Regions from separate parts of the Homo sapiens genome. Here all the other regions are linked to region 1. Evidence: fine-mapped expression QTL. A gene starts in region 1. Each other region holds a variant in brackets. All regions are shown on one strand. Distances are between the middles of the regions.

Region 1 (2,646 bases):
GGCAGAACAGGCAACTCCAAACAGGGCAATTACCTGTTCCACATCAACAACTGTGTGACCCGGGCCCTCCCCGGTCAGGGTGCAAGCTCGCTACCCTTCAAAGCCCACACTCGCTCCACTTGCTCACAGTTCTTCAGGGATGATGTATTTCTCCAATAGCAAGACAACCCCTACCATCTCATCAGTGAAAAACATCAGTCCTCTATCAAGGCAATCTCTCCAATTTGCTCACACAGTGTGGATGGAATGTCATCTACTTTCTGCATCCTAGGGGGGAAAAAGAAAACGGCCACCTTCCTTAAGGACTAGATCACAGAAATCGCACAAACGTGCTGGGGAGGGGGCACCCCGAGGTCCTCGTTCATCGGGGCCCCTCGGGGGACGGGCTGGGGTCGTCGCCGAGGTCTGCGGTCCCCGAGAGCGCCCCTTGCGTGTGCAAGTCCTGGGCTATGGGGCTCCGGTCCACAGCCACGGAGGAGGCACAAAAACGATGCCTGTCGCTCCCGCCTGGCTGGCAGGAGCGACCCCCTTGGGAGACTTCGGGCCCCAGAGGAGCCCGGGCGCGGTTCTAGGCCTTTCCAGTCTCCCCGCCGTGGCTCCGGGTCCTTCCCGCGGGGCGAGGCCCGGGACAGAGGTCGGGAGCGCGAGGCCCCCGGGCCGGGCTGCGGCAGCCGCGGCTCAACGGACGCCGGGCGCGGTGGGGCCGGGGGTGCGGAAGCGAGGAAGCGGGAGCCCCTCTTCCGGGGCGCGGCCGGGGACGGGGAGCGGGGCCCGGGGGGCGATCGCCCGGCCCGGGCGGTTGGCGGCGGCGGGGCTGCGGCGCGGGCGGCCCGGCGGGCGGGAGGAGGAGGGAGGAGGGAGATCTCGCTCTCGCTCTCGCCCCGCGGGAAGGGGGAGGCGGAGGCGCGACCGGCTGCGGGAGCTGCAATTACCGTGTGGGCTGCGGAATTCTCGTGGTGTTTGTCGGGGAGATGCGATAATGGCGTCCGTCCTCGCGAGAGAAGCCGCCGCTCTGCGCAGGCGCCGCGAGCCCCTCCCCGCGACGCTCGGCCCCCGCCCTCCGCGCAGGCTCACTGGGCGCGCGGGCCCGGGGGCGGGGCACCCCTGTGGCAGTGAGGCCAGCTGCGCGCGCTTTTCCCGCTCGGCCTCCTGGTGAGCATGCGCAGGCGGCCTTCTTCCGCGACGGTACCGGCTTCCCAGGGCTTTTTTCCCCCCGTTTTTCGCCCACGCCCATGGCCTGCGTGAGAACAATCACCTCAGTGGACGGTCTGAGGAATTTGCATCTTCTTTGAGACGGAATGAATACGCATTAGCTCCCTCAACTACTACACCTCCCAGGGTGCCCTGCGCAAGCTGGGAGCCATGCATTCGGGGACTCGTAGTCCCTGCGTCTGGGCCATGCCTGCCGGGACTTGTAGTCTCTCCGGACTCCGGTGGCCCGTCCTGTCCCCGCACCAAGGGTTGCTGGGACTTGTAGTTACGATGTCTCAGGTGGGCTGTGCGCCCCCAGCGGGTCCTACCTGCTGCTGCGGCGGGTCCTGCCCTGAGGTTCCGGAGCGCTTGGTGGCGTTTTCCCTGACATAAGTGGTCAGGGGTCCCCAGTGTCTATCCAGAGGGGCCTGAGTGCACGCGCGCGGGACTTAGCACACGCGGCAGTGATTATGGTCTTAGATAAGTCCTATAGGTAACACATAATATAAATAAGTGATGGCGGCCGGGCACGGTGGATCACGCCTGTAATCTCAGCCCTGTGGGAGGCCAAGGCGGGCGGAACACCTGAGGTAAAGGGTTCGCGACCAGCCTGGCCAACATGGCGAAACCCTGTCTCTACTAAAAATACAAAATTATGCCGGGCGTGGTGGCGGGCGCCTTGTAATCCCAACTACTCGGGAGGCTGAGGCAGGAGAATCGCTTGAGCCCGCGAGTCAGAGGTTGCAGTGAGCCGAGATCGCGCCACTGCACTCCAGCCTGGCGACAGAGCGAGACTCTGTCTCAAAAAAAAAAAAAGTGATGACGTGAATGTGCACACGTAGAATAAATGTGCAAATGTGCGTTTGTGGGTAATCACAGGAAAAAATTCCCAAACCATAGCGCAGTTCCCAGAAATGTCATTCCTGGTTATCTCCCTCTGCTAATCTAGGATTACCTTGCCTTTCATTTTCTTCTTTATACTCGCCTCTGTTTCCTCAATTATTTGCAATGAGCAAGAATGCCTTTGAGCTCCCAAACACAGGGCGAGGCAGCTATTTTCACTGGGAAAAAGAAAATGCTGGCCGGGCGCGGCGGCTCACGCCTGTAATCCCAGCACTTTGGGAGGCCGAGGCGGGTGGATCACGAGGTCAGGAGATCGAGACCATCCTGGCTAACACGGTGAAACCCCGTCTCTACTAAAAATACAAAAAATTAGCCCGGCGCGGTGGCAGGCGCCTGTAGTCCCAGCTACTCGGGAGGCTGAGGCGGGAGAATGGCGTGAACCCGGGAGGCGGAGCTTGCAGTGAGCCGAGATGGCGCCACTGGACTCCAGCCTGGGCAGCAGAACGAGACTCCGTCTCAAGAAAAAAAAAAAAAAAAAGAAAGAAAGAAAAACAAAATGCTTTACCTTGAATTTCCTGCCCAACTCCCTTTTGCCAATAATAAAAACAGGAT
Region 2 (2,646 bases), 72 kb before region 1:
GGGAGCGGGAAAAATCCTATCATGATGGGATCAAAAGATCACCTTGAATTTAACTGCCATTTTCCACTTTAAGCATTTGATCTCATGTTATTTGACAGACATTTTTTTTTAAAAGCCTCATGAAGTAGGAATGTCACTACTCTCATCACTTTGGTTTTGAGGCAAAAGCCAGAAAAAGGAGAAGTGATGTGTCCAAGTCCAATTACTAGTTAGGAGTGAGCACCGGCCTTAAAGTGCAAGCTTCCTGGGCCCACCAGGTGAAGAAGCAGCGGCCCTCACTGGATCCTGAGAACCCATGAGAGGTGCTCGGGGAGACGGGAAGAACACGCACAGCCCCGCACACGTGACTCTGCTGTCCTGAGCTCCCTCAGCCCAAGGCACCTGCAGCCCCTGCTCTGGGAGGCCTAGTCGGACTTCAATCGAGGCAGAAGTCTCCCCTGCAGCAGCGCCCAGGACACAAGGAGAACAGAAGTGCTCGGCATCCGGCTGCTGAGGCTCACGGGATCCCCACAGCGTGGCGTCACCTGGGAGCAGAACACCCTGTCTGGCCTCAGTCCCTGCTTTCCCCAGCCATATCCCCACACTACACCAACCGAGGCCCCTCAAGGCCGGGACGGGATTGCCTTCCAGGCTCAGCCAGGCAGCATCCCTGCCACAGTGCACGCCTCTATTTTCCTGGCGAGCTGTTCTGCAGTCCCCAAAGAGCTAAAGAGTCTCCACTACACCGTTAGCTGCCTTCCCACTTTCCAGAACCCCCGTTACTGACTCTGGTGGTTCAAATCATAAGCCGATTCCCAGCTCTCCATCTGTGGGGCCATGAGAGGCACTGTGGGAAGCGAGATGAGAGAGCCAGGAGGGCTTGTCATCTTGTGCCTTGGTGGGTGGCATGGGGCTTTATCAGTCACAAAGGAATGAAGAGCCCCACCTGCTAACACACTCTCATGTGCAAGGGAAGGCACCACAAAACCGAGTGCCAACAACTGATTTCTTCAAATTACAGACTCGACGTGACAGCGCTGCCTAGAAAAACAAAAGGCCTCTGCCCGATGGAAGCCAGCTGACATGCTCCCTCCCGGGGGAAGCATACACAGCTCACGCCCCA[T/C]GCACCTCAAACGTCCAGCCTCCAGGCCAAGCCGGCCACCTTCTTCAAGCCTGCTGACTCACTCCTTTATGAGAAAAAATGATGGAGAGACACCTGTCCTCAGTCTGTTAGCCAGAGAGCCCCTCACAGCCACCTGCAGGACCACCTCCAGGTCACAGCTTCTGGGTGACCTGCTGAGAAGGAGGCTCTGCTCACTTTTCTGCCTGAAGCCCACACTGACCACACCTTCCTCCCAGCTCTCAGTCACCGTGAGGCGCTCAATGTCCCAAGATACACAGACAAACACCCACCCCTGCATGGAGTCCACATTCTGCCTTAAGGACACATATAGGGCAGCCTCACCATTTCACCTCACAGAGAACCTGGAGAAGAGACAGCACCTGACCACCCGTGTCCTGTGTCCTGGGCTGAACAGTGTCCCCACAAAACTCACGTCCTGGTCCAGGACCCCAGAATGTGACCTGACTGGGAACTAGGGTCTCTGCAGATGTGATTCATTAGGTTGTAATGAGGTCATCCTGCAGGAGAGGGAGCTCCAAATCCAGTGACTGTCCTCATAAGGAGAGGGACACAGAGGGAGACATGGGGGGAAGACAGCCGAGGGGGATGCGGCCAGAGACTGGAGGGATGCGGCCACCACCAGAAGCTGGGAGAGGGAAAGGGCCTTCTCAGGCAGCGTGGCCCTGCCCACACCTTCATCCCAGGCATCTGGCCTCCAAACCTGCACGAGAACACAAGCCTGTGTTCTAAGCCAGCCAGGCTGTGAGCTTTGTCCCCGCGGCCACAGGAACCTGAGGCACCCTGCAAGACACAACGGGGCCAGGTCGCACACCTGCACTCACAGGGACAGGTGTGGGTGAAGTGGCCCCCGCTGCTTCCCACTAGGTACCACCACCTGGGGCTTGGAGTGAATGATTTGAAAAGAACTACAATCATCTGACAGGTCAACCCTGAAAGCATAACTTTTTACCTTGTGCAAATGAATCCAGTCTTTCCGTAACTGCTAGGAGGTCTCATGGGGATCGGCCATCCACAGCAGCATTCTTTAGATCAGACGAGATCGGGTGTGTTCAGGGTGGCACGGCCTTAGACAGCATTCTTTAGAAAAGCCCTCAGATCCGGGGTCACCGGCTTGGATGCAGAGTCCAAGCAGAGGCGTGAGCGAGCCGTGGATAGAAATCCTAAGAACTAAACCAATTTCTCTTCATAGAGAAAACAGGCGAATGCTGCTGTCCTGAGAGCACATTCCTTAGGAAAATGCTCCAAGGTTTTCCAAGTTGCAATAATATGCTACTTTTGCATAAAACACACAAATTTGGTTAGCTGCCCAAATTCGGGGGGTCCACCAATCCTTGGGAACCCTAAGAAAGCCAACACCCCAAAAAGCAAATTTCTCTCTCTCCCTCTTTCAATAACCTCATTTCCTCATTTTGAGAAGGTGGTACTTAGAGACTTTACCTACTGTGTGTTTCAAAATGTAGACTTTTTTCTCCAGAAAAAGAAAGAAAATCTTTCTGCTGACAAATAAGGAGAAACTTAAATCA
Region 3 (2,646 bases), 32 kb before region 1:
GGAAGCCTCGGATGAGTGGACACCAAGCAGGTCCGAGACTTTCTAAGACATCATAAAGGTTCTACTCAAACAGTTTGCAAACTACCACACAGCTTTCTAAGATTAGACTCATTAGACTCTACTTTTTAAAAATAAGCAAAATAAAAACTGCAGACTTGAATGAAAAGTTTGATATATTCATGTGAAATGTATAAACACCACATACGAAGAAAAACATATGTAAAGACTAGCCAGGTAGAGTAGGAAAAAGGAAAGAAGCACATGTACATTTTCTAAGATCTGGTGGGTTAGTTCCAAAGAAAAGGTGCATGGGTCGGCTTTATGTGGAAAGGAAACGTGAGGATGACTTCAGGTCATCCTGGCAGGATGCCATGTGTTCGGTTTCGGTCTAACTAAAAGTCAGCTTTAGTTAGAAACTGCTGAGACTGCTGAGGCAGACACCGCGCATCTCCAGCAAACTGAGCCACTAAGCTGCGGGCCTGGGCGAGGAGGTGACGCGCTTCTCCCCAAGTGACCTGAAGGCCCCGGCACCCTGGTCTGTTCTTACCATCGCACTTTGTTGCACGTCTGGGTTGCCCCGAGAGGGGAGCCGGCCACCATGGGGACCTGGATGGGGCTGTGCTGCTTGTTCGTGACCAGATCCAGCTTTTCTTCTAAGGATTTACAAGTAGCCTCCAGGGCTTGCAATTTGGCTTCAATGCTATCCAACCGCAAGCAGATTGTCTGGTTGATGGAATACAGGAATGACTGGAAGTGAAAAAAGACCGGCTTTAGGAAGGGTCTCCTGAACTGTAAGAAGACAACCCCAAGAAACACCAAACAGCTATTTCCTGATCTCAACTCTATCTATTCAGACAGAACAATCCCCACACTGGAAATAGCCCGTGAGCTATGAGCCAGAAACATGTGAGTAACACGTCCACATTTTACACACGAGTCACACGTCCTGTTTCAAATGTGATGATTTAGTCATGGTTTCACTTCTACGTGCAGTTGCAATTCTTGGTTAAGCCCATTTAATTTTAAAAATGTACTTTAATATGTTATTATTAATCAGTAAATTTACACATAAAACTAGTCAAATCTTCTCAACAATAAAAACAGATTACACCTAACATCGACACAGCATAAAAGCCACAGGCCACGCACATTC[G/A]CCTCACAGCCCGCTGCCTAATGGGAAAAGGTGACGGGACCCCCTGTGGCCCTGACTTGGGATTTGGTCCTGAGGCTCCCGTGGGGCTCTTGAGCGGCAAGCTTGCCACCTAGTGGTTGGCAAAGCCGGGCTCCACGTCTGACCTTTCCGGCTGAGTCTCCTCCGGATTCCTAACTCCAAGTAACCAGTGAGCAGTCACGTGCCGGACCCCAAACCCAAGAAACAGAGAAACACACAAACCAGAAAGGGAAGAATTTCATTTCCCCAGCTGCCGTCCCAGCCAGGAGCCACCATGAGCACACGTGGAAACGTGTTAATCACACAGGAATTGCACTGTGCAAAAGAGACACCCTCCACCAGGTCTCACCAGCAGACAGAAGGACACTCCTTCAGGTCTAGGGAGGGACAGGTTGGGGGAGCGCCCACCAGCCCTGCTTAGTACTCAGGAAGGCTGGCACCTGCCTTAAGAATCAACAGCTGAAAACAGCACAGAATTCGTGTTTCGTCTTTTCTCTCTCCTTTCCTGCCCATGACCTAAAGAGCGTGGGGTCCAAAGTGTGCACATCAGAAGGAAGGGGGAGGTAGGCTCGAGACAGCAGGGGTGGCACTGAGGCAGCCACTGAGAGCGGGCCGTGGAGCTCGCAGCACAGGGGAGCGGGAGGCCGGCCCACATTGACAGGGGAGCGGGAGGCCGGCCCACATTGGAGCCGGAACGGCTTTCCCAATAACTGCAGCTGACCTACAACACTGCTTATGCCCACTCTCCTTTCTGATCTCAAGGGAATCTGCAGAATATCAAAACTGCAGTGATATCATACATCATGTAGCTGGCATGGAAACCTGGCGTACACAGTGGCAGGGACAGCCCTGCAGGAGGGAAAATCCACATATTGCCCAACAACTCGCCTTTTCTCAGGTCACCACCTCTCCTGGCAAGATTCACCACTGGGCGCTGATATAGACAGGAGCTAAAGAAACCAACTGAAACTCACCCTCCCTGACTGACTACTCTCTGTTGAAGGCGCGTGTGAGAGAGGGAAGGAGCCACGGCGTCAGGTGGACTCAAGCCCACGTGATGACACTCAATCAGCTTACCTACAAAGGAGGCACGGTCCCTGGCATGACAAACATGCATCGTCGTGAAAAGCAACAATAGGTGGCTGAATCCCTGAATGGCCACTGATAACGCCGCTATTTTCAACAACCGGAGAACATCAAATGTTTGGCTCTCAAATTCTTTACACAGTACACCCATGTTATTTTAATTCTGAATTACAAATGATTCTGCCTGGGGTTTTGGGAAAAATCACTCTTATATACCAATAAAACAACCTAGAGCCACGCACACGACTCTACGCAAGTCACATTCAACCGGGGGCCCACCCTCTTCTCAACAGTGGGACAAGGAGGAAGGCAGGGCCACTCCCGTGCCCACTTTATACATTTCTGTTCTATGTGCAACAGATGTGTGTTCTGTGATAAAATCAGAGCTG

What was found.
Region 2: its variant is fine-mapped to the expression of BANP in testis (GTEx, PIP 0.93).
Region 3: its variant is fine-mapped to the expression of BANP in whole blood (TOPMed, PIP above 0.99).

Annotation. Positions count from the first base shown.
Region 1 is chr16:87,949,802-87,952,447 of GRCh38, reverse strand. BANP (BTG3 associated nuclear protein) reads right to left here and starts at 1,014. Exons shown (of 14, transcript NM_001386991.1): 1 at 933-1,014. RefSeq lists silencers at 519-618, 639-698, 729-848, 859-1,158 and enhancers at 447-1,089, 1,349-1,658.
Region 2 is chr16:88,021,857-88,024,502 of GRCh38, reverse strand. The region is part of intron 7 of BANP (BTG3 associated nuclear protein); the gene reads right to left. Among named protein-coding and RNA genes, the nearest start is that of BANP, 72 kb to the right of the region's middle. The variant T/C (reference allele first, on the strand shown) is at 1,103.
Region 3 is chr16:87,982,161-87,984,806 of GRCh38, reverse strand. It overlaps BANP (BTG3 associated nuclear protein), which reads right to left. Exons shown (of 14, transcript NM_001386991.1): 4 at 548-747. Among named protein-coding and RNA genes, the nearest start is that of BANP, 32 kb to the right of the region's middle. RefSeq lists an enhancer at 1,096-1,688. The variant G/A (reference allele first, on the strand shown) is at 1,154.